7 linked regions of the Homo sapiens genome follow. The protein of the gene in region 1 purifies or fractionates together with the protein of each later gene. This does not show direct contact. Each region holds a gene or a part of one and is shown on either strand. Other genes may lie near its edges.

Evidence for each region.
Region 2: the proteins of PSKH2 (region 1) and HK1 purify together in Homo sapiens (affinity purification with mass spectrometry; one large-scale study listed by BioGRID and IntAct). This does not show direct contact.
Region 3: the proteins of PSKH2 (region 1) and PPP2R1B purify together in Homo sapiens (affinity purification with mass spectrometry; one large-scale study listed by BioGRID and IntAct). This does not show direct contact.
Region 4: the proteins of PSKH2 (region 1) and MTR purify together in Homo sapiens (affinity purification with mass spectrometry; one large-scale study listed by BioGRID and IntAct). This does not show direct contact.
Region 5: the proteins of PSKH2 (region 1) and COPG2 purify together in Homo sapiens (affinity purification with mass spectrometry; one large-scale study listed by BioGRID and IntAct). This does not show direct contact.
Region 6: the proteins of PSKH2 (region 1) and MMS19 purify together in Homo sapiens (affinity purification with mass spectrometry; one large-scale study listed by BioGRID and IntAct). This does not show direct contact.
Region 7: the proteins of PSKH2 (region 1) and IQGAP3 purify together in Homo sapiens (affinity purification with mass spectrometry; one large-scale study listed by BioGRID and IntAct). This does not show direct contact.

What each region holds. Positions count from the first base shown.
Region 1 is NC_000008.11:86,046,609-86,049,638, reverse strand, and holds the end of PSKH2 (serine/threonine-protein kinase H2), read left to right. Parts: intron 1-871; coding exon 872-1,177; 3' UTR 1,178-2,530; downstream 2,531-3,030.
Region 2 is NC_000010.11:69,398,847-69,402,382, forward strand, and holds the end of HK1 (hexokinase-1), read left to right. Parts: intron 1-2,144; coding exon 2,145-2,289; 3' UTR 2,290-3,036; downstream 3,037-3,536. UniProt on the Homo sapiens protein: Catalyzes the phosphorylation of various hexoses, such as D-glucose, D-glucosamine, D-fructose, D-mannose and 2-deoxy-D-glucose, to hexose 6-phosphate (D-glucose 6-phosphate, D-glucosamine 6-phosphate, D-fructose 6-phosphate, D-mannose 6-phosphate and 2-deoxy-D-glucose 6-phosphate, respectively).
Region 3 is NC_000011.10:111,756,390-111,759,889, reverse strand, and holds part of PPP2R1B (serine/threonine-protein phosphatase 2A 65 kDa regulatory subunit A beta isoform), read left to right. Parts: coding exon 1-86; intron 87-3,500. UniProt on the Homo sapiens protein: The PR65 subunit of protein phosphatase 2A serves as a scaffolding molecule to coordinate the assembly of the catalytic subunit and a variable regulatory B subunit.
Region 4 is NC_000001.11:236,801,792-236,805,291, forward strand, and holds part of MTR (methionine synthase), read left to right. Parts: intron 1-1,636; coding exon 1,637-1,851; intron 1,852-3,500. UniProt on the Homo sapiens protein: Catalyzes the transfer of a methyl group from methylcob(III)alamin (MeCbl) to homocysteine, yielding enzyme-bound cob(I)alamin and methionine in the cytosol. MeCbl is an active form of cobalamin (vitamin B12) used as a cofactor for methionine biosynthesis.
Region 5 is NC_000007.14:130,658,749-130,662,248, reverse strand, and holds part of COPG2 (coatomer subunit gamma-2), read left to right. Parts: intron 1-3,500. UniProt on the Homo sapiens protein: The coatomer is a cytosolic protein complex that binds to dilysine motifs and reversibly associates with Golgi non-clathrin-coated vesicles, which further mediate biosynthetic protein transport from the ER, via the Golgi up to the trans Golgi network.
Region 6 is NC_000010.11:97,457,824-97,460,422, reverse strand, and holds the end of MMS19 (MMS19 nucleotide excision repair protein homolog), read left to right. Parts: intron 1-190; coding exon 191-377; intron 378-681; coding exon 682-764; intron 765-896; coding exon 897-1,061; intron 1,062-1,140; coding exon 1,141-1,200; intron 1,201-1,522; coding exon 1,523-1,623; intron 1,624-1,703; coding exon 1,704-1,731; 3' UTR 1,732-2,099; downstream 2,100-2,599. UniProt on the Homo sapiens protein: Key component of the cytosolic iron-sulfur protein assembly (CIA) complex, a multiprotein complex that mediates the incorporation of iron-sulfur cluster into apoproteins specifically involved in DNA metabolism and genomic integrity.
Region 7 is NC_000001.11:156,569,766-156,573,775, forward strand, and holds the start of IQGAP3 (ras GTPase-activating-like protein IQGAP3), read right to left. Parts: upstream 2,801-4,010; 5' UTR 2,765-2,800; coding exon 2,728-2,764; coding exon of another isoform or gene 2,713-2,727; intron 1-2,712.

The sequences.
Region 1 (3,030 bases):
CCTCCCCTCTTCTCTCTCTCTGCCTCTCCCCTCCCCTCTTCGCTCTCTCTCTCTCTCTCTCTCCTCTTTCTTTCTTTTTAGAGACAGGGTCTCACTCTGTCACCCAGGCTGGAGTGTGGTGCTGCCATCATAGCTCACTGCAGCCTTGAATGCCTGGGCTGAAGGAATCCTCCCACCTCAGCTTCCTGAGTAGTTGGGATTACAGACATGTGCCACTGTGCCTGGCTAATTTTTACATTTTTTGTAGAGATGGGGTTTTGCTGTGTTGTCCAGGCTGGTCTCAAACTCCTGGACTCAAACGATCCTTCTTCCTCAACCTCCCAAAGTGCTGGGATTACAAACGTGAGCTACTGTGCCTGGCTCAGAGTAAGCTTTCAAAGGGAGGGAAAAGTTGATGATTTCTCAATCCATTCCACTTTCCCCTTCTACTCCTTCTCATTCTTGAAGTCACAGGAACTCTGTGAGATGACCACAGTGTTGCAAACACTGACCTGATGTTGACATAGTTCGTAAAAGACAGCTGCTTTGCCTTGTCCAGCTCCCGTAAATGCAGTATGGGAACTCGTATTGATAACAACAGCACAATGGACAGATTTCTGAGAAGGTTTTCTCACTCATTGGACAAAGAGTTTGGAAGAGAATTTCTGTGTTTGTGTTTGTCTTTTTCTTCTGTGAAAGTTTTTTCTTTTCCTCCCTCAAAAGTGGTTTAGTTCCTCTATATATGTAATGACACAGTATTAAAACTGCTTATTTGAAAAAGTTTTTTGGATTCGATTGGCATTGATCTATGTAATTAAGAATAGGATTCTTTGTGTTTGTGTATATTTCCATTTTATTTATTTTATTCTAACTTATTTATTTTTATTCTCAGCCTTGGCCAAGCATTTCCCACTTGGCGAAGGACTTTATAGACAAACTACTGATTTTGGAGGCTGGTCATCGCATGTCAGCTGGCCAGGCCCTGGACCATCCCTGGGTGATCACCATGGCTGCAGGGTCTTCCATGAAGAATCTCCAGAGGGCCATATCCCGAAACCTCATGCAGAGGGCCTCTCCCCACTCTCAGAGTCCTGGATCTGCACAGTCTTCTAAGTCACATTATTCTCACAAATCCAGGCATATGTGGAGCAAGAGAAACTTAAGGATAGTAGAATCGCCACTGTCTGCGCTTTTGTAAGCAGATGACCTCTAAAACTATTTTTGCCTATTTTAGGACCATTTCATCATGATTAGGGCACCCTCAAGCTCCAAAGACACGGGACTCCATGGTATTGTTGGATACTATTGATCTTGACTTTTAACATTTTCTTGTTCTATAATTTTTCCTATACCTGTATTCATTTTCCCAAAATATACTGCTGCAAATGATTAACAGTTTAGTAAATACTAGCTATGTTTAGATAACTGGAAACAATAAATAGATAAGAAAATCTTTAAAGTATGTAATGGATTAAATAAAATACAATACTATAGAAATAAGGGATGTATATGTGAAGGCATGGTGAACCAGAGACATAGCAGGAATAGTTAGATATGGGGAATATATGTATTTATCCTGAAATTACTGATTTTTATTTAAGCCCCAGTATACAGTGTTAACTAGGTAACACTCGAAGTAGTTATAAATGTCTGTTAATTTCATATTTAGTCTGCAAATATTTATGAAAAATTATTAATTATGGGGCCTATAAAGAACTATAAGATATAATTTCAATCTATCAGAAACTTTTAGTCTAATTGGGGCATTATTCACGGGAAAAATAGAGATTTTTAAGAATCATAAAATAGTGATTTTTTTCTAATGTTAGCATTCATCAACCACCAGGGTTTACAAAAAAATATAAACATCTTGCTTCTTATCACTACTGTCAACTCTTTTCAGTATGTACTGGTTTCTTTTAGAATTATTTAATCAAATATCTTGATGACTTTAAACACTCACCATGAAATAATTATAGGTAATGCAATAAAGGGGTAAGTTTCAAAACTTAGTTCTCTAGGCAAGTCACATATGGCCTGATCTCTTATATGGTAAATTTTTGTAAAATGATATAAAGATTGAAATATTATTAATCATATCTGTGAGTCACTCATATGTGTGGGTAAACATAGTAAATAAATGATTAATTAGTTGATATTGCTTATTTTATTCAGAAAAATAATAAAATGTTAGAATGACATTTACTGTAACTTTAAAATCAGTCTCAATTTTTTCATTTTATTTTTCTCTTTTAGGCTATATAGATGGAACAGCTATATATCTGATATATAGATAAGAATATGTAATTAGTGACACAACTATTTTCTTTTTATGTTGTAATGCTGTATCACATGATATATGACAGACCTGGATTAATTCCTTTAATATAGAAAGACACTTACAAATTCATTAGATAAATAATAGAAAAATGGGCAAATATTTTACCAGGTGGTTTATAAACATATAGATGGCTAATGAGTAAATGAAAAAAATGCTTCATTTCATTTGTAATTTACAAAATGAAAATAAAAATGACAAAGAAAATGAAAATTTAAAAGGCAAAGAATTTTTTTTTACCTATTAGATCAAAACAGTTTTAAACTTGGATACTACATATGGTAGAAGGTTGCAGGCAAGCAGATACTCTCATGCCCTGCAGAGAGAGAGGAGTGCAATTTGGTGCCACCTCATGGCCTTGGGGGACAGTTTGGTAGTAATATCTACTCACATTAAAAATGCATTGACCTTTGATCTAATTGCATCATTGGTAGCAATTTGTCCTACATATATTCTTGCCAAAGTGTGTATAAAACATTGTGCATAAGGTATAAAACATTGTTATTATATTAACAGTCATAAATAAATGCCTATTAGTAGGAGAATGCCTTAAAGCATGTTACCTTTAAGCAAAGGTCTACTATGTAGCCATTAAAAATAATGCGGTAGATCTGTAAGTTTTGTTATATAACATGTTATTGTGTTAAATGAATAAGCAAAAAGCACAGAAGTATTACAGTATGTATTTGTGTGAAAAAAATATGTTCAGAAGC
Region 2 (3,536 bases), on another chromosome or scaffold:
TGGGATGCGCAGAGCTTGCTGGGATCCCTTTGGGTTAGGGGGTATCAGGGTGTGGTTTACGCTGGGGAAATGCCCTGCGGGAGCCCAGCCAGGCTGAAGGCTGTGCGTTCAGGAGCTGGGGATTGTCTAGGACAAGGTAATGAACAGTTTGTAGGGTTTGACTGGGATCCTTAGGGAGACAGAGAAGTGGCTTCACTTGGCCAGCTCACACCAGTGGCATGATGTGACCCTCACCCCACTCCTCCTGGTCCCCCTTAGGTGGGGGCTAGGCAGTGGGAGAGGAGGTGAGGGTGGGCGTGGGCTCACTCATAAGCCTGGTGAGCTGTAGCCAGGCCAGAGGCTCTGTTGGGTAAGTGGGGAGAGGATATTAAGAAAGGGGAGGAGCTGGGTGCAGTGGTTCACACCTGTAATCCAGCACTTTGGGAGGCCTAGGTGGGAGGACTGCTTCAGTCCAGGAGTTTGAGACCAGCCTAGGCAACATAGTGAGACCTTGTCTGTACAAAAAAATTTTGAAAATTAGCCAGGGATGGTGGTGAATGCCTGTAGTCCCAGCTACTCGGGAGGCTGAGGGAAGAGGATTGCTTGAGCCTGGGAGGTGGAGGTTGCAGTGAGCCCAGATCACGCCACTGTACTCCAGCCTGGGCAACAGAGTGAGACCCTATTTCAAAAAATAAAATAGGAAAGGAGGATAGCCACTCTCTTGTTCATCTGCTGAATCAGTTTGCTAAGACTTGGAAGGGCGGGAGCGGTTTGGGCCCTGGGCTTCATGGCAGGGAGGGGTAGGGAGTGGCCTCCCTCTGGTCAGGCATCTGACCCCCCATGCCAGAGAAGGACATGTGATTGCACTTGCTGTGTGATTGTGATCCACCGCATGTCTCACCTTATGAATAGGGTGACCATATTATTTATTTATTGTCTACACTAGGGTACTCTTGCCAGTCAAGAGTGCTAATAATTATTACTCTGGGACTGTAGGCAAACTAGGACCATCCCAGATAAATGAGGCCATAGTGTCACCCTACTTATAAGCAACCTCACCCGACTCAGTGTAGACATTACCTGCTTACCTCATGGCCGTGGCTTGGGGTGGAACCATCTGTCTTGCTCCATCCTCACCTCTGTCTCTCCCCCTTAATAGCTGTCCTTGCCATCAGCTGAGGCAGCACACAGGAGTGGTTTAGAGCTAGGCTTTGGAGCCACATACTCTTGGATTTAACCCTGGCACCGTCACTTAGAATCTGTGTGCAATTGCTTAATCCCTGCAAAATCTCATCTTCCTCATGAGGTGGCAGCCACTGGCAGGACTAGAAATTAGAGCTGTAAAATATGGGGCACCTAGTAGGTCCTCAAACTCCTTGGCTCAAGTGATCCTCCCACCTTGGCCTCCCAAAGTGCTGGCATGAGCCACCGCACTCCGCCCACCTAATAGGTCCCCAACCAAGGACAGTGACTACTTTTGAGAGCCCCTCACCACAAGCATCTTCAGCCTGGCCCTGCCCTTCATTTTGAGCCCAACTTACAAGCATGTAGATTCAGCCTTTGTTCAGATACTATCTTCACTGGAAGGCATTCCTGTCTTTGGGGGCCAGGCTGTTGATGGTGGGGCGCTGGGGGTCTCAGGGTTGCAGCTGGAGATGGGTGATATTCATTCCTGCATAGCCTCCTGAACCGATCCAGTGCTTGGCTGGCTTGCACCTGCCTTAATGATCCATGTCAGCCCCTAACATCCTCCTTGGTTTTGAGGTCCCCCTGGAGCCTCAAGCTCCGATGTGGGTGTGTGTGTTATTCATGTCCTAGCCTTCATAAGCCATACAGAGCAGTTGTGTTTGGATTCGCAGTTGGGCCTCCCTGCTGAAAACTGTGACAATGGGATTGACCGTGGGCCCACTTTCCTCCCAGCCATTCTCAACTGGCCACAGCTGCTTCTAAGCAGCCTGCCTCCCAACCATGTTCACCCTCCTTGTTGTTGGGTTCAGAGTCTCTTTGACTTCCGATGCTTATGTCCTGATAAACCCATCACAAAGTCGAAGAATCCTAAGTCGAATCATCACCAGTCAGGGGGCTGTCTGTGCTTTGGTGTTTTCGGGTAGGCCCAGCGTCTCTCATCTTCCTCCAACTACCTTCTGTTTTCTCGTCCTTTTTAGCTTCTCCAGAATCATGCACCAGACGGTGAAGGAACTGTCACCAAAATGTAACGTGTCCTTCCTCCTGTCTGAGGATGGCAGCGGCAAGGGGGCCGCCCTCATCACGGCCGTGGGCGTGCGGTTACGCACAGAGGCAAGCAGCTAAGAGTCCGGGATCCCCAGCCTACTGCCTCTCCAGCACTTCTCTCTTCAAGCGGCGACCCCCTACCCTCCCAGCGAGTTGCGCTGGGAGACGCTGGCGCCAGGGCCTGCCGGCGCGGGGAGGAAAGCAAAATCCAACTAATGGTATATATTGTAGGGTACAGAATAGAGCGTGTGCTGTTGATAATATCTCTCACCCGGATCCCTCCTCACTTGCCCTGCCACTTTGCATGGTTTGATTTTGACCTGGTCCCCCACGTGTGAAGTGTAGTGGCATCCATTTCTAATGTATGCATTCATCCAACAGAGTTATTTATTGGCTGGAGATGGAAAATCACACCACCTGACAGGCCTTCTGGGCCTCCAAAGCCCATCCTTGGGGTTCCCCCTCCCTGTGTGAAATGTATTATCACCAGCAGACACTGCCGGGCCTCCCTCCCGGGGGCACTGCCTGAAGGCGAGTGTGGGCATAGCATTAGCTGCTTCCTCCCCTCCTGGCACCCACTGTGGCCTGGCATCGCATCGTGGTGTGTCAATGCCACAAAATCGTGTGTCCGTGGAACCAGTCCTAGCCGCGTGTGACAGTCTTGCATTCTGTTTGTCTCGTGGGGGGAGGTGGACAGTCCTGCGGAAATGTGTCTTGTCTCCATTTGGATAAAAGGAACCAACCAACAAACAATGCCATCACTGGAATTTCCCACCGCTTTGTGAGCCGTGTCGTATGACCTAGTAAACTTTGTACCAATTCAAAGACCCGAGTGATGCTTAATGGCTGGGGACGGGGGGACAGGCAGAGGGGGGTGCAGTTTCTTGGGATGTGGCAAAGACCAAACACTGGGGAGTTTTGTGGCCTTCTGGGCGGAGGAGTTTTTTTTTTTGAGATGGAGTCTTGCCCTGTCACCCAGGCTGGAGTGCAGTGGCACAATCTCAGCTCAGTGCAACCTCTGCCTCCCGAGTTCAAGTGATTCTCCTGCCTCAGCCTCCTGAGTAGTTGAGACTACAGGCGTGCATCCCCACACCCAGCTAATTTTTGTATTTTTAGTAGAGAAGGGGTTTCACCATGTTGGCCAGGCTGGTCTCCAACTCCTGACCTCAAGTGATCTGCCTGCCTTGGCCTCCTAAAGTGCTGGGATTATAGAACAAGGCCACTTGGCTTCCAGGCTGCTTGGGTTCAGTGAGAGGACTGCAACACTGGTCCCCTCTCTGCCATCCCCACCCGGATCCTGCCCTTCATCTTCCTCTCTGCCAACC
Region 3 (3,500 bases), on another chromosome or scaffold:
TGGGTGAATTTGCAAAAGTTTTGGAATTAGACAGTGTGAAAAGTGAAATTGTTCCACTGTTCACTAGTCTAGCTTCAGATGAACAGGTAAACTAACTCTTAGTATTTAAGGGACACAGATATGCTCCTTTCCTCTAAATTTTCAGAATTTCTTTGGGGAGTTTTAGTTTTCTTGTTAGGATTCTTTTTACAGAATTAGTGCTGATTCTGGCCTGGTTAAAGTGTAACATGCTTATCTCAATGTTCTTATGTTTCTTTCTTAACCAGACCATGATTTCTCTCTTACATTAGCAGCTGTTAAAAGAGTGGGGAGTCAGAGAGGAAATGGGAGCCATAATTAGAAAGGAAGACCAAAGCTGCATGGAGGGTAACATACCTTTGGGAATTGCTGGCTGTATTGTAATATGAGGGAGTAATGTTTCCTGGAATTTTTGACTTTTCAGATAAATAAGCTTAGAATGTGTTAGGAAAGCTATTTGACTCTCTGCTTCTTCTATAGTAGTGTATGGGATTACTTCACATAATCGTATTCAATTCTGAAGATCTAGATCTCTTTGGTGTAGAAATAACAATAAAACTAGCAAACATCCAAATGAAGTACTTAATTTTTCTCTGCCTTTAAGTAGTTATGTGTATTAAGTAATTCAGTCCTTACAACAGCCCCATGAGATAGCCCATTTTACACATTAGAAAACAAAGGCACAGAAAGTTTAAGTAACTTGCTGAAGTTTGCATAGTTAGCAGTAGTGGAGTCAGAATTTGAATCTAGGTGGTTTGGCTCCAGAATTTGTGCCCTTCACAGCTAGGCTGTCCCGCTTCTCTGTAATGGTGCTTAATAGGATCAGCTCCCAGAGTTCCTGGACTCTAGAATAGTCCTTTTGGGCTTTTAATTTGCATGTTGCCTGCCCTAAGATCGCTTCATGTGTACAGGACCACAAGCCCCAGGACACATATTAATGAGTCTCATTTTCAGATCCTAAATCTAAAGATCTAAATCCTACTTTGAAAATAATTTTAAAAATTATTAGAATTTTTATTCTAATAATAAATGTACAAAATGAATGTATAACTTAATGAACTATTAGAAGGTAATACCAACTTGTTAACGATCACCTATGATAGGAGACATCACTTTGACAGCCACTATCCCAGAATCCCTCCATGGATTCCCTTTCAAACACAATCTCTCTTTCCTCCTCCACTTGCCACTCCATTTCCTTAAGAGTAACATTATCCTGACTTTTATGGTAAGCGCAGCCTTTGTTTTCTTTGCACTTTTTCTTTTCTTTTCTTTTCTTTTTTTAAAAGGAGTCTCACTCTGTCACCAGGCTGGAGTGCAGTGGTGCAATCTCGGCTTTCTGCAACCTCTGCCTCCCGGGTTCAAGCAATTCTCCTGCCTCAGCCTCCCAAGAAGCTAGGACTACAGGCGCATGCCACCACGCCAAGCTAACTTTTGTATTTTTAGTAGAGACGGGGTTTCACCATGTTGACCAGGATGGTCTCCATCTCTTGACCTTGTGATCCGCCCACCTTGGCCTCCCAAAGTGCTGGGATTACAGGCGTGAGCCACCGTGCCCGGCCTTCTTTGCACTTTTATTACCTAAATGTTATAGTTTAAAACAGTGCTTTACAACAGAAATATAATGTAAGCTACCTGTTGATTTTAAGTTTTCTACTGGCCATGTTTTTATAAGAAAAAAGAAATAGGTGAAATTAACAATATTTGTATTCGACCAAAATTTTCCAAAATCTTATTATTTGAGTGTAAATAACGTGTACCAGCCACATTTCAAGTCTCAGCATGAGATGATGTTGTTAATAGGGTGGTAGTGAAGATGGAAAGGATTTGGATGTCAGTTTGGAAGTGGGATCAATAGGTTAGTATTATTGGATTGGATCAGTGGGAGAGGAATCAAGATCTCCTAGATTTTTTGCTTGAGCAACTGGGTGGATGATGGTGTCATCGTTAAGATAGAGAAAATTCTGGGAAGAGGAACAGGTGTAGGAGAGAAAACGAAGTTCTGGAAGAGAAGTAATTTTTTTTTTTTTTTTTTTGAGATGGAGTTTCACTCCTGTCGCCCAGGCTGGAGTACAATGGCATGATCCCAGCTCACTGCAACCCCTGCCTCCCGGGTTCAAGTGATTCTCCTGCCTCAGCTTCCTGAGTAGCTGGAATTACAGGCGCCTGCCACCATGACTGGCTAATTTTTTGTATTTTCAGTACAGATGGGGTTTCACTGTGTTGGGTAGGCTGGTCTCGAACTCCTGACCTTGTGATCTGTCCGCCTTGGCCTCCCAAAGTGCTGGGATTACAGGTGTGAGCCACTGCACCAGACCAGAGAAGTAATTTTTTAACAAATATGTATTAGCTTATATTTCAGTAGTTGATTAGCAGTCCCATGATTTAGCATCATTTTCGAAATTCAAAAATATCTGTGTAGTCACTACCAAGAACTTAGTCCTGTCTTTTTTAGCCTGTGCACCTGCATACAGAGGAATGTGTGTGTCTTTGGCATATAGTCAGTTATTGTTGATACACAGTTTCTAAGATTTGTAATATTTTGGAAGTTGGAGTCACTGTTATGTCTCTCAAGTATGTGTATACGTATATACATAACTGTTATTGTACACACTTAAAATTTTTTACCTATTTCTCCTGGGTGCTAATGTTTACATGTATTAAGATTCTACCTTATATATGTATAATACACAAATCTACAGTCTCAATTTCTAATTTCTCATTGATGTTTCTTTTTTTTCGGTGTTTTTTTTTTTTTGAGTTGGAGTTTTGCTCTGTCACCCAGGCTGGAGTGCAGTGGCGCGATCTCGGCTCACTGCAGCCTCTGCCTCCTGGGTTCAAGCAATTCTGCTGCCTCAGCCACCTGAGTAGCTGGGATTACAGGCACGTGCCACCATGCCTGGCTAATTTTTGTATTGTTAGTAGAGATGGGGTTTCACCATGTTGGCCAGGCTGGTGTTGAACTCTTGACCTCAGGTGATCCGCCTGCCTCGGCCTCCCAAAGTGCTGGGATTACAGGCATGAGCCACTGTGCCTGGCCCCTCACTGATTTGTCTTGTATATTTTCCACTTGTTCAAAGGACGTAGGTGTCACGTTGACATTGGCTGTTTACATTTGGAAAGTTGAGTTCATTAATCCCATACTTTTCTAATTTCTGTGTTTTTCTAGCCACAGCTTCCTCAAAGTTATTCTGTCCTTGATCTTCGACATTTAAATCCAACTGATTTTTGTTTTTGATTTCTAACTTTTAATTGTTCTGTGTATTTCTTTCCAAGTCATTATCTTATGCTGCCTACACTCCTGTTACTGCGACCCTGATCTGAGTTTTTTGAAAACTAAGCTTTCTAAGTGATTTCCTTTACTCTTACTCTTACCTTTGTCCTAATCTGTTATAAATAACTTGTACAAATATTGTTTTCATTTTTATCCCTCAACTTTCTGTTATAGTAAGGCTTTGAAGGCATCATTAAAATGTTTTTTT
Region 4 (3,500 bases), on another chromosome or scaffold:
ATGCTATAGGGAGTTGTTGAAGGTGTTTGAGCAGGGGAAGCAACTGGTTTAAAATTGTTGTATAGGAAGATAAATCTGGTAGTGGTGCACAGGATGGATTAGAACACAGGGCGACTGGGTATGGTGGTGATCTCTTACCTTTGTAGGACACTTGATAGTTTACAAGGCACTTCCATAGATGTATGATCTCATTTGCATGGATGCAAACTAGAGCTCAGAGAGGATTGGTGATAGCTGGCCTGTGTAGTAAGGGGTTGAAGAAAGGGGTTGTCACAGGGCGAGGAAGGTGGGACCATTGTGCATGGCATTTTAGAGGCCAAATCTATAAGGCTTGGGATCTAAGTAGATGTTGGTTATCAGGGAGAATAAGGAGTCAGATAATACTGAGATTTTATGGTTAGTCTTCTGGGAAGGGTGTTGCCATTTACAGAAATCAGGAGATGAGACAGAGAATATATGCAAGTTTGGTTTTGAATATTAGATTGAGGGGCAGGTGGGTAGTTGAGGTAGCCATATCCAGTGGACAGTTTAAAAGCTGGGTCTAAGATTGGGGCCAGGTGTTTTTGATATTTAGAAGGTCATTGGTGACTTTAGAAAGTAATTTCAGGAGAGTGGTGGAGGAGGAAGCCATGTCAGAAGGATAAGAAATCGGTGGTTGCTGAGGTGGAACTGTGGGAGTGGGAAGGGCTAGATGAGGGAGCAGTGGGAGGTGTTGGTCATCATGCGCTTTTCCTTAGGTACAGAAAGAAGGGAAATAGAGTGAGCCAGACTGCAAGAGGATTTTGAGGTGGAGAGGGTGTGAGTTTGAGGAGCCTCCAACAGAAAACTTCTTTGTACGGGATTAGGTGAAATCACTTGTGGAGTGAGGAGGAAAAGGATTTGGTGCTAAAAAAAAAAGTAGAAATTGGGACAGTAGATGTTGGAAGTATTGAGGGAGGTCAAGAAAAGGTGAACCAAAGGAGGCTGAACGTTGCAAGTTTTCAGTGACTCCAGTCAGCATAGTTTTGTGGCTTTCCAGTAGGTCGTAGAAACCAGAAAGCAGGATTAGAAGGAGTAAGCATTGGGCCCTTTTCTGGACTGGGAATTAGAAGTCAAGGAGCATGGGGAGAGTTGAGAAGTTCAAGGGTGTTAGCCAGTTATTATTTCATAGTTGGGCAGAGGTGAGTAAAACTCTGTTTGCAGGCCATTATTAGTTCTGGCAATAGGTGAGGGAGAAGGTCAAAGCTAATATTTTAAAGAATAGTTTGGAATTATTGATGGTTTTCAATTATCTCTGCTAAATCATTTTATTTAGGGAGTATCTGCACAGAATTAACAAGGAAAGAGAGCAAAGTCTTGTATCACTGGCCCATTATTGCCTGTTTTCCTCATCTGTAAAACAGGAGTAGTGTAGCCTACCTTCACCTTGGTTTCGTGCTTCACCAGGAATTTTGTGCTGTGTGCAATCTTGTATTAGGCATTGTCACGACTTAATGACCTTTTTGGGCAGCGTTTTCCTATATAGAGTTATGAGTGCATCTTTTATAAACTCCATTTACTCCTTATTGGAGATTATTATAAATTTCTCTAAAGCTCCTCCCTCACACATCTTTTTCACCTTTCATTCTTTGAAGTCAAACTTTCACTTTCTTTAAAGAAGGTCTGAAGAAAACCCTGCGGGATGAGATCAATGCCATTCTGCAGAAGAGGATTATGGTGCTGGATGGAGGGATGGGGACCATGATCCAGCGGGAGAAGCTAAACGAAGAACACTTCCGAGGTCAGGAATTTAAAGATCATGCCAGGCCGCTGAAAGGCAACAATGACATTTTAAGTATAACTCAGCCTGATGTCATTTACCAAATCCATAAGGTAAAGTATTCCCAGGTTCCCATGTGTATTCATTCTGTTATTCTGCAAGCTGTTTCATGTATCAGGGCAGGCTGCTATGCCGAGTGCTCCGGAGAATAAAGAATAAAGAGGCAATTTATTCAGAAAGCAGGTTTTGGACATCAAATAAAAGTTATGTACTGTGTTAAGCACTCAGGATAAGGGAATGAGGTAGGTAGGTTTTCTGCCCTTGAGGCATGTAAACTCTAGTGAAAAACTATGAGAATCTGGACAAATAAGGGTTTTCACACTAGTGAGTGTGAGAAAACTATCTTATTTAAGTTACTGCAACAGCCCTGATGAAGAAATGCTTAAAGGTGGTTGGTATCTTAGCTTTGGCTGCTGTATTACCTGTTACCATAGACTGGGTTATACAAGCACACATTTATTTCTCACAGTTCTGGAAGCTGGAAGTCCACAGTCAAAGTGCCAGCAGATCCTGTGTCTGGTGAGGGCCCTCTTGTTTATAGATAGCTGTCTTTGTATCTACATGACGGAGAGCAGAGAGAGAACAAAAAACTCTCATATTTGTGCTTATAAGGGCACTGCTGTGTTCTCAATGTTTGTGTCCCCATGAGATTCATATGTAAAATCCTAATGCCTAGTGTGATGGTATTAGGAGGTGCCCTTATAAAAGAGGCTCAAGGGCGCTTATTCACCCCTTCCACCATGTGAAGATACAGTGAGAAGATGCTGTCTATGAACTAGAAAGCTGGCGCTCACCCATTATAAAATTCTAAGATACAATTATCATTCATGTATTTTGTATTTTAGTCTAGTTTTCTATACTTGGAGTTTAAAAAATTAAATTGGGATTACATTGCTTCGTACTGTCTTATAATTTGCATTTTTTACTTATATACCATGAGTATTAAATATTCTGGAACATGGTTTTAATAACTTCATAATCTATTCCATGTATATATCATCATTTATTTAACTAATCTCCTTATTCCTAGGCATTAAGTTTATTTTCAGTTTTTCTTGTTCTTTTAAAAAAAACTTAAATTAGTTCTTATAAAACAAATCTCGTAGATAATACATTCCCATTTGACCATACTCTAAATTGCTATTTTTTCCCCAGAGATAACCACTGATATTAGTTGGTGTGTGTCGTCCCAGATTCCTTTGTTAGGCATTTTCATATATGTGTATGTGTGTATACGTGAGTGAATATATATATGTAGAAAACTCATAGTACTCTGTGTATGTTTTTTTAATTTAATGGTGTCATGCTTTACGTATCATTCTATTTTTTTTTTTACTTAACAATACTTTGCAGAATCTTTCCATGTCAGTATTTGTAGATATACACAGTTTTTTTGCTGTCACATGGCATGTAATAAAGTGGATATATTTTAGTTTATTTAGCTGTTTCCCTATGGGTAGATATTTCGGATGTTTGTTATTGTTACTATAAATGTGCGTATCTTGGTTTTTATCTCCCAGTGCTTCTGCAACCATTGTCCATCGACTTAAGAGGGGTTGGGTTTATTCAGTATTGGAAAATCAAGGGGGTCAAGGGATTCCAGGTTGCTAGTCAGATTGAGGTTGAGATGATCCAAGGAGTGGAGCCAGGGAGACGAGTTTCGAAGAGAGCACAAAGGAGCATCAAGATCTTCAGGGTTTCA
Region 5 (3,500 bases), on another chromosome or scaffold:
GAGAGGTTTTAGGAGTAGATCTTCAGGAAGATCAGCAGTCCCCTGTAAGGCAGCTGTTTCAGGGGAGGCCATTATATACTCTACAGGCAAAGGAAGACTAATTTCCTCACATATGGGATAAAGGACTGATGCTTCTACTAGCAGAAGATGTCACAGAATTTAGGAGTTCGGGGTACTTGGCTTCATCAGAGTCTGTCCATATATCTTCATTCTACTTTTCAGGGCCCCATTCCTTGCCAGTCAAGGTCCTAACTTTAACATAAGATGTCCTGCAAGAGTGTGAATTCAATTTGCATTGTAACTGAGCCACCTGCAGGATATACTTTGTAGAAGTCTCAGCCCTGTAGCCACATGATATAAGGCTTTCTATGAAGGCAGTTATAGATTTCTGGCCCCCTTACCCAGATTTGAGTAGTGCTTTTAAAACTCCGAGCTCATCATTTTCTTTTCCTGAGAAAAGAATTATCCAGTGTACCTAGAAACAACTAATTAACCCATTATACAACTTATTTTTACTAAAATCTTCTATGGCATCCACTAGTTAGTTACCCAAGGCTTTGTCTTCTGTAGGTCCTTGTCTGCAGATGATGATTTTAAATATTTTGCCACTGCATGCTGTGGACTACTAGTAGCCCCTTTACCATTGGAAACTGGTCATTAATACCTTCAATCAAATCAGAGAAGCAACTTCAGGTTCATATCTTTAAGGACTTCTTTTAACCACTTCCTGTAGCAGAAATTCAGGGTTCAGACAGGGAAACAGAACCACTATGAGTATTGTGGAATTAGGTGTTTATTAGAGGAATTAGACTAGAAAACTAGGCAGGTTGAGCTGCTGGAGTAGGGTTCAGAGGGAGGCTGTTACATAAGTCATGGAAGGCTATTGCCTCTTTTGTGGCTTTGTTTTTGCAGCCAGGTGTCTTCCCAAGGCTGCTGTTACTCAGAGGGCTGGCAGTTGGGAAGAAAAGCTGGACATGTAGTGGAGAAAAGGAAGCAGAGTAAGAAAGAAAAAGGATGAGGACAAACTTTTGAAGCCTGTAGCACAGAGGTTTATATTAAGAAAAGAAGATATGAAATTGTCTTCTAGGAAATGGATTAGGGAAATGTAGGATTGTTCGATAGGACTAATAGCCTGTTGAAGTTAGTGCTTATGAATTTAAAGTATTACCAATGTTTTTCTCCAGCTACATGGTGAATGTTTTTCTCCAGCTACAGCCTGCAGGTTAAAGCACTGAAGGCTTAGAGATAGGATTTAATCAGGATTGAAGTTTTGCCAGGTTAGTGAACAGAGGGAGAAGCAAAAAAGTTGAGTGGTTGGAACATCGACTGTGGAATCTTCGGTTAGGAGGGAAGCAAGAACGGGCTGACAGGGACAGCAAAAAGTTGGTAGAACCAGTGGATTGTAGGTCAAGAGAGAGTGAAAGAAGTTTGGAGTCAGGAGTGTGAGTGCTTGGGAATGAAATTAGAAAGGGATGCTGTTACTGATAGGCTGTGGCAGTGGGTGATCATTGTAGGGAGGATGGCATCATTGGAGAAGAGGAGGTCGAGGAATGAAGAGGTCAGAGGTTTAGAGATACCATCTGTATGGATATTAAAATCACCAATACTTATTACTGGGATTGCACTGGAGAGACAGTGAACAAGGTACTGGTATTTTTTAAAAATAAGGGAAGTGACCTGGGGTTTAATGGACAACCAGCAATGGTAGCAGGTGACATAGTATAAAGGCATAAGCTTCCCCACCTGTAGGCCTGGTGGTATGAGGGTTATGGGAGAGAAAACAGCTGCTATTTCAGAGGGTTGCAGGAGGATCCCTGGGAGAGAACCAGGTTTCAGTTAAAGAAAAAGATGGGAACATTCAGAGAAGAGTTTGAGAATATAGGGGATTTTGCTGATGAAAGTGTCAGAGAATATAATGGCGCTGATTAGAAGGGTGGAAAATGGAGTCAGACGAGGTGCTGTACCCAGATGCAAGGAATAAGTCTGCAGGTTATGAATAATGACCAGAGTATTTTAGGCTTTTTGTAGTGACTGAGGTAAGTAGCCATGTACAGCATGATGTGATTAGTTTTAATGATTCCTTAGGCAAAAATACGGAATTGAGGGAGTGATTGTTTTGGGACAAAGAGAGGTAGAGATTTTGCCAGAAATACGTGGAGCTCCTTCCGTTACCAGCATTCCTTTACCAGAAGGTAATTACTGTCTTGAAGTTGGTATTCTTCTATCGTTGTTTATATTAATATATGAGGATTACATAGTTTACATCTGTAATCAATACTTTGCATTTTTGTGTGTCTTAAAATATAAAAATAACATCTTCTTCTTTTGCAATGTTGTTGTTGTTGTTTTTGAGTTGTCGCCCAGGCTGAAGTGCAGTGGCGCGATCTTGGCTCACTGCAGCCTCCGCCTCCCGGGTTTGAGCGATTCTCCTGCCTCAGCCTCTGGAGTAGCTGGGACTGTGGGCACGTGCCACCATGCCTGTCTAATTTTTGTATTTTTAGTAGAGACAGGGTTTCATCATGTTGGCCAGGATGGTCTCAATTTCCTGACCTCTTTATCTGCCCGCCTTGGCCTCCCAAAGTACTGGGATTATAGGCCTGAGCCACCACACCCAGCCTGCAGTGTTTATAATTAATACATTTTTAAGATTTACTGGCTTGTTACATGTACTTCTACTTTATTTACTTTCACTACTATATGGAATTCCAATATGTGAATATACAGTAATTCTATTTATCCATTCTCCCATTGGTAGATATAAGTTGTTCCCACATTTTACCTATTACAAATGATACTGCACATAATGTTTATGTACACAGTGAGACTTTTTCTGGAGTAGATACCTACAAGTGGAATTTCTAGATAATGCTTGTTTGTTCGTTTTTTTTTTTTTTGAGACGGAGTCTTGCTCTGTCGCCCAGGCTGGAGTGCAATGGCATGATCTCGGCTCACTGCAACCTTTGCCTCCCAGGTTCACGCCATTCTCCTGCCTCAGCCTCCTGAGTAGCTGGGACTACAGGCACCCGCCACCACACCTGGATAATTTTTTGTATTTTTAGTAGAGACGGGGTTTCACTGTGTTAGCCAGGATGGTCTCGATCTGCTGACCTTGTGATCCGCCCGTCTCAGCCTCCCAAAGTGCTGGGATTGCAGGCGTAAGCTACCGCGCCCGGCCTAAGCATATTTTCATGTACTTATTTGCCATCTGTATATCTGCTTTGATGAAGTGTCTGTTAAAATTTGTTACCACTTAAAAAAATCAGGTTGTCGGCTGGGCCCGGTGGCTCACGCCTGTAATCTCAGCACTTTAGGAGGCTGAGGTGGGCAGATCATGAGGTCAGGAGTTTTAGACCAGCCTGGTCAACATAGTGAAACCCTGTCTCTACTAAAAATACAAAAAATTAGCTGGGTGTGCTGGCAGGCACCTGTAATCCCAGCTACTTGGGAGGCTGAGGTGGGAGAATCACTTGAACCCAGGAGGGGGAGATTGCAGTGAGCTG
Region 6 (2,599 bases), on another chromosome or scaffold:
ATGTTTGTATTTTTTGTAAGAACTGGGTTTGGCCATGTTGCCCAGACTCCTAGACTCAAGCAGTCCACCTGCCTTGGCCTCCCAAAGTGCTAGGATTACAGGCATGAGCCACCACACCCGGCCCCATCCTTATCTTTGGCACTTAAGATTCTTCTTCCCTGATGTACCTCAAAGGCTCTTTTTTCTCCAGCTCATGGGCCTCCTGAGTGACCCAGAATTAGGTCCAGCAGCAGCTGATGGCTTCTCTCTGCTCATGTCTGACTGCACTGATGTGCTGACTCGTGCTGGCCATGCCGAAGTGCGGATCATGTTCCGCCAGCGGTTCTTCACAGATAATGTGCCTGCTTTGGTCCAGGGCTTCCATGCTGCTCCCCAAGGTGAGGAGTCTGAAAGAAGGTCCCCACATATACACATCTCTCCTTTGCTTGGCCACATTCCCTAAGATAATTTAGGGCCCGCTTGCTTCTTTAGAGCTATATTGTGGTCTGTGCCTAGAAGACTAAACTTCTAGATTCTTGTCCCACTTCTTCCTTTCATGGGCGTATCTTGCTTATTCTGAGCGTGAAGGGCTCTTTCACCCGTTTGTAGGCTGATGTCTCAGCCTCACCACAGATTGGAATTGATTTCTCAAGCTATATATCTAAGTCCAATTTCTCCCCTAAGCCTTTCCATTTTTTACAGATGTGAAGCCAAACTACTTGAAGGGTCTTTCTCATGTACTTAACAGGCTGCCCAAGCCTGTACTCTTGCCAGAGCTGCCCACGGTAAGTCCCACAGGCAGAGCTTCTAAGCAAAGGACAAAGCTATTCTTCCCCAGATGGGGCTAGAAAGGGGAGGGAACAAGAACCAGGATCTTCATGATGTGGCCATCCCCTACCTTGCCCATTGCCCCTTAGCTTCTTTCCTTGCTGCTGGAGGCCCTGTCCTGCCCTGACTGTGTGGTGCAGCTCTCCACCCTCAGCTGCCTTCAGCCTCTTCTACTGGAAGCACCCCAAGTCATGAGTCTTCACGTGGACACCCTCGTCACCAAGTTTCTGAACCTCAGCTCTAGCCCTTCCATGGTGCGTTGAGCCCCAGCAACTCTTAGGCACCAGCATCTCTCCCTGGGCATGCTCTCACCTCCTTGTGGTTGTGTTCCAGGCTGTCCGGATCGCCGCACTGCAGTGCATGCATGCTCTCACTCGCCTGCCCACCCCTGTGGTAAGTACCTCAGGTGTCCTTCCCTGGCCTGGGAACATCTCAAGAGACACATAAGTACCTTTTTGCCTTAGTCAGGTGGGCTTGGCCACCCTGGTGTGTAATTGAGATCTGAATTACAAGGTACAGATCTTGTAATTCTGGGCCCAAGGATTCTTTTCCTTGGGCCCAGAAGGTAACAGAAAGGCCATCCTGCCACTTAACATCCCTTGGAATCACTAAAGATGTTTTGCTTTCCTCAGAATATTAGTTGTACAGAATCAAAAAAGCGGTACTTTCAGTTGCCTTGGATGAGCAAGGTTGATTATATCCTCTGACTCCACAGCTGCTGCCGTACAAACCACAGGTGATTCGGGCCTTAGCCAAACCCCTGGATGACAAGAAGAGACTGGTGCGCAAGGAAGCAGTGTCAGCCAGAGGGGAGTGGTGAGTTTCTAGGTCGTGGGGAGAGATGGGACCAAGATGAGCCTCATCACTAATGCTGCCAACTTTCTTTTTGCCTACAGGTTTCTGTTGGGGAGCCCTGGCAGCTGAGCCCTCAGTCCTGGCCTAGACTGTTCTGACAATCTAACCTGGGATTACTAACTGTTGAGCCATCTTCCCCAAAGCAGGGAAACCACTGGTCTCTGACTGCCTTTCCCACAGACACAGCACAAATGCTAGGCCTCTGTTGCATGGCTGTACAAAGAACATAAGAGTCCATATTTCTAGTGGATTTGTAAAATAAGTGTGTGTGAGACACTTGCGTTTGAAGAAAGATCTAGGGTCCTGGGTCTCTTGCATTTATATGTCAGAAAAGGGGCGATATGCTGCTGAGGGGTGAGTGCATATGAGTGTGGCCCTGAGGACCAGGGCTGGCAGATGTTGTCTACCTGCTGAAGAATAAAGATTTCTTTTGGTAATGGGGCTGTCAGATATTTCCCCCACCCCACATATGCCTCATATAACCAGAGGCATCACTGGAATAACAATGACAGGGATTGGCCAAAAATTTTTCAGGGTAACCAGGACAGTAGCACATGCCTGTAACCCCAACACTTCAGGAGGCTGAGGCAGGCGGATCACTTGAGGCTAGGAGTTTGAGACTAGCCCTGGCAGTATAGCAAGAACCCATCTCTACAAATAATTAAAAAAAAAAAAAAATTAAGCTGGGCATGGTGGCTGACGCCTGTAATCCCAGCATTTTGGGAGGCCGAGGCGCATGGATCAGTGGAGGTCAGGAGTTCAAGACCAGACTGGCCAACATGGTGAAACCCCATCTCCACTAAAAATACAAAAATTAGCCAGGTGTGGTGGCATACGCCTTTAATCACAGCTACTTGGGAGGCTGAGACACAAGAATCACTTGAGCCGGGCGCGGTGGCTCACGCCTGTAAAGCTTGTAATCCCAGCACTTTGGGAG
Region 7 (4,010 bases), on another chromosome or scaffold:
GCCTTGGCCTCCCAAAGTGCTGGCATTACAGGCTTGAGCCGCCACCATGCCCAGCCGAAACATCTTCTCAACAGACTTGTTTAGGCAACCCTGCTCAGAGACCTGAAACATCTCCCATGTGTCCCTCCTTCTCTTCCCAGGATACCCTTTAATAGGCAGCCTCCTCCTGTGCTGGAGGCATTACTTCTCTTTCCTCTGTAGCCATCTTCCTGTCCTCTTCCTCCTCAAGTCTACTCATGGAACTTCCCTCAGTACCTCCCAGCTGGGACATCCAGAGCCTTCCTTGGCTTGAAACTTAACTCCTTTTCTTATCCCTAATTAGACTGAGTTCTCCAAGAACTGGACCTGTGTCATCCTCGTTGGTTACTCTCTCAGAGGTGAGGTAATAGAACCAACCAGAATTCATCATTCACTCATTCATTCATTCATCAATACCTCCTTTATGCCAGGCACTGGACTAGCAGACCCCTACTCTTAAGAAATGCAGAGATAAAGGCCTGCATGGTGGCTCATGCCTATAATCCCAGTACTTCTGGATGCTGAGGTAGGTGGATCGCTTGAGCCCAGAAGTTTGAGACCAGCCTGGGCAACATGGTGAGACCCTGTCTTGACAAAAAATACACAAATTAGCCTGGTGTGATGGTGCAAACCTGTACTCCCAGCTACTGGGCCTAGACCTGAGCCCAGGAGGTCTAGGCTGCGGTTAGCCATGATCGTGCCACTGCACTCCATCCTGGACAACAGAGATATTGGTGGGTTTGTTTTGTTTTTGAAACAGGGTGTCACTCTGTCACCCAGGCTGGAGTGCAGTAGTGCAGCCTTGACCTCCTGGGCTCAGGTGATCTTCCCACCTCAGCCCCCCCACCACCAAATAGCTGGGACCACAGGTGCGCACCACCATGTCTGGCTAATTCTTGCGTTTTTTGTTGAGACTGGTTCTCACCATGTTGCCCAGGCTGGTCTTGGACTCCTGGGCTCAAGTGATCCTCCCGCCTTGGCCTCCCAAAGTGCTGGGATTACAGGCGTGAACCACAGCGCCCAAAGATTATTATCAGAAGAGAAAAACATCTGAATAAATTAATCTAACATGATAAGTATGATTATAGCCCATGCATAAAATCTATGGGAGCAGCAGAGGAAGCAAAGGATTCTAGCTATGAACTAGATCTTAAGGAATAAATAGGCGGAACACAGGGAAAGGCAGTCCAACAGAGGGAAACATGCCACTCACTTGGGATTAAGTGGAAGGACAAAGAAAATTTTAAAAGATCACAAAGGTATCTTCACTATCCTTTTTGGTATAGGTCACCCGAGGAGGAAAAGAATCTTCAAGCTAAATAAAATACAGAGTACTGATTCCAAAACTCAAGAATAGAGAATCCCTCAAGTGAGACAGCAATCATAATTTGCCTTAGTTACAGTCTCCCTTAATCCTTCTCCCTTCTCTCCCCTCTCTCTATTCTCCTTAGAAACACAATACAAAATCAAACAGAAAGAGTAAGAGAAAGCTACACACACAGTAAGAAAATAAACTCAGAGAGCTTGAAAAAAGGCAGAGCTTAGCCAATCTGTCTTTGACTCAGCACTTAATGTCATTCCCGGTTGTTATCCTATTTCCTTATATTGCATATTCTGCAATGATTCAGGGAAGGGCAGAGCTTATATGAATGAGCAGTTAAGTAAATTAAAACACATGCGTGCACACACACACACACCCCTCCAAATACAGATTTGAAAACACTGGCCAACCACAGGAAAGCCATCAGTTCCTCCAAGGGGGTGTACAAGGAACAAGTGTTGGTTGTTAAGCATGGAAAATAAACCAGTAAGTGAATGACATCATCTCAGAGTTATGAACTGAGGACTGTGGGCGATGGGAGGGATTTTGTACATACACATGCTGTCTCAAAAAAATAAAAAACCGAAAAACAGTTTTCCTGTCCTTCTCAGGTCTGGAACTAGTTTTCCTTTAACAGAAGACTGGACATGGACTTTGCTCTTTGAATCCTAATAGAAAGGAAGGGAGTGGTGGAAGGAGCAGGTTTTCCTTTCATTCAGAAAATCAGATAGAACCTTTCTGCCCCACCCATCCTTCCAGCTCCAGTCTCTCTCTCTAAAACAGTGTCTTTGAAAATGTGGCCCAGGGACTACCTTCCTCACAATCACCTGGGGTGAGGGAAGAAGCACAGCAGTGCTTGTTATAAATGCAGATTATGGGCCCCAAACCAGACCTTCTGGAACTGAAGCTCTGGGACAGGTCCCAGGAATCTGCATCTCAAACAAGCTTCCCGGGTAATTTCACCCCCTGTTTGACAGGCATTGTCTGAAAGCGGCATCTCAAAGCCTAAGAGTCCCCCAGATCCCTTGAGGCGTCTTGTCCGGTGGCATCGCTGGGCAAGTTTGGTAGCCAGCAGTAACTGCTGAATTTCAAGGAGCCATTAGGATCACCTACATTCTCCCGACTCCGGAACCCCAGAACTTGGAAATAGGAAGAAAGTTCTTTGTAAGCTTTAAAGCGCAGCACATTAGTCAGGGGACAATGCGCCGCTCACAGTTCCACTCGGGCCCACGGCGCCCGGGCTGAGGATTCCCGTCCCACTGAGCAGTCCCACCGCCCTCGCCCCTCAGGCTTCACGCCCGACACACGCCCCAATCTCTCCCGGGACAGCCAAGCCCCCGACCAGCGGCACCACTGCGAGACCCTTCTCTGACCCTCTCCGCACTCACAGGCTGCCCAGCCTGGGCCCGCTGCTCTCCTCTCCATGTTCCTCCTTCTTCCAGGTTTGAATCTCCCGCCGTTGGGCCACCGCCCCTCACCGTCGGCACCGCCAGACAGGACACTTCCCGTCCACACCGCTGAGAATCCTGGGATTTGTAGTTCCCGGCCGCGGAGCCGGGCCGCCCAGGTGCTGGGAGAAGAGGCGCCCCAGGCCGGGGCAGTACCGCTCCCCTTACAGCAGTTCCTCGTCTTGTTCCTTCCAGGCTCCTTTTCTGCTTAACAGTCTTATTCTAGCTGCTGCCCCTGCCATTGCCTCTGTCATCTCCACCTAGTATTCCCATTAACCCCTACTCTGCTTCCTATGTGTTCCCGAGTCCGGCTAACTTGTGGGCCTACTTGGCGCTATGCACTAAGCTAGGTGATGCGAATGCAGAGATGTATGAGGGCAGTGAATGCTCTAAAAGAGTTTGCTGTTCTGGCACAAGTGATAGACATATAGTCAAATAAATTAGAGGTCGGTGATGCACAGAGGGAGGGGGTCATTGCTGTGAATAAGAGCAGCGAATGACAGGGAAGACGTCCTGGTGGAAGTGACAGCTGATTTGGGTTGAGAAGTGAAAGAGAATTCATCAGATTGAAGAAGAGAGGCAGTGCAGTCAGTGGAGACAGCATGTGCAAGAACGAGGAGGTGAGTTCGGGAACTTAAACTTGGTTCAGTTTTAGAGGAGAACAAAGCTCAGCCAGGGAGAGGCCAGAAGGGATCCTGGAGGCACAGGGCCAGGTCCAGTAGCACCTTGGGCACCATGCTAGGGCCCTGGCATGGGGTCTGGTGAGCAGTCACCAGCCAAGGAACACTTTAGACATAGGTCAGAGCCAGATTTGTCCTTTAAAAAGAGCCATCTTATAGCAGGGGATTGGAAGGGGGTGAGGCTAGGGGCAGAGACCAGTTGGAAGGCTACTGCAGTAGCACAGAAGAGAGATAATAAGAGCCTGAACTAGGCCAGGCACGGTGGTTCACACCTGTAATCCCAGCACTTTGGGAGGCGGAGGCGGGCAGATTAACTGAGGTCAGGAGTTCAAGACCAGACAGGCCAACATGGTGAAACCCCATCTCTAGTAAAAATACAAATATTAGCCAGGCGTGGTGGGGTATGCCTGTAATCCCAGGTACTCCGGAGGCTGAGGCAGGAGAATCGCTTGAACCCAGGAGGCAGAGGTTGCAGTGAGCTGAGACTGTGCCACTGCACTCCAGCCTGGGCGACAGAGTGAGACGCCGTCTCAAAAAAAAAAA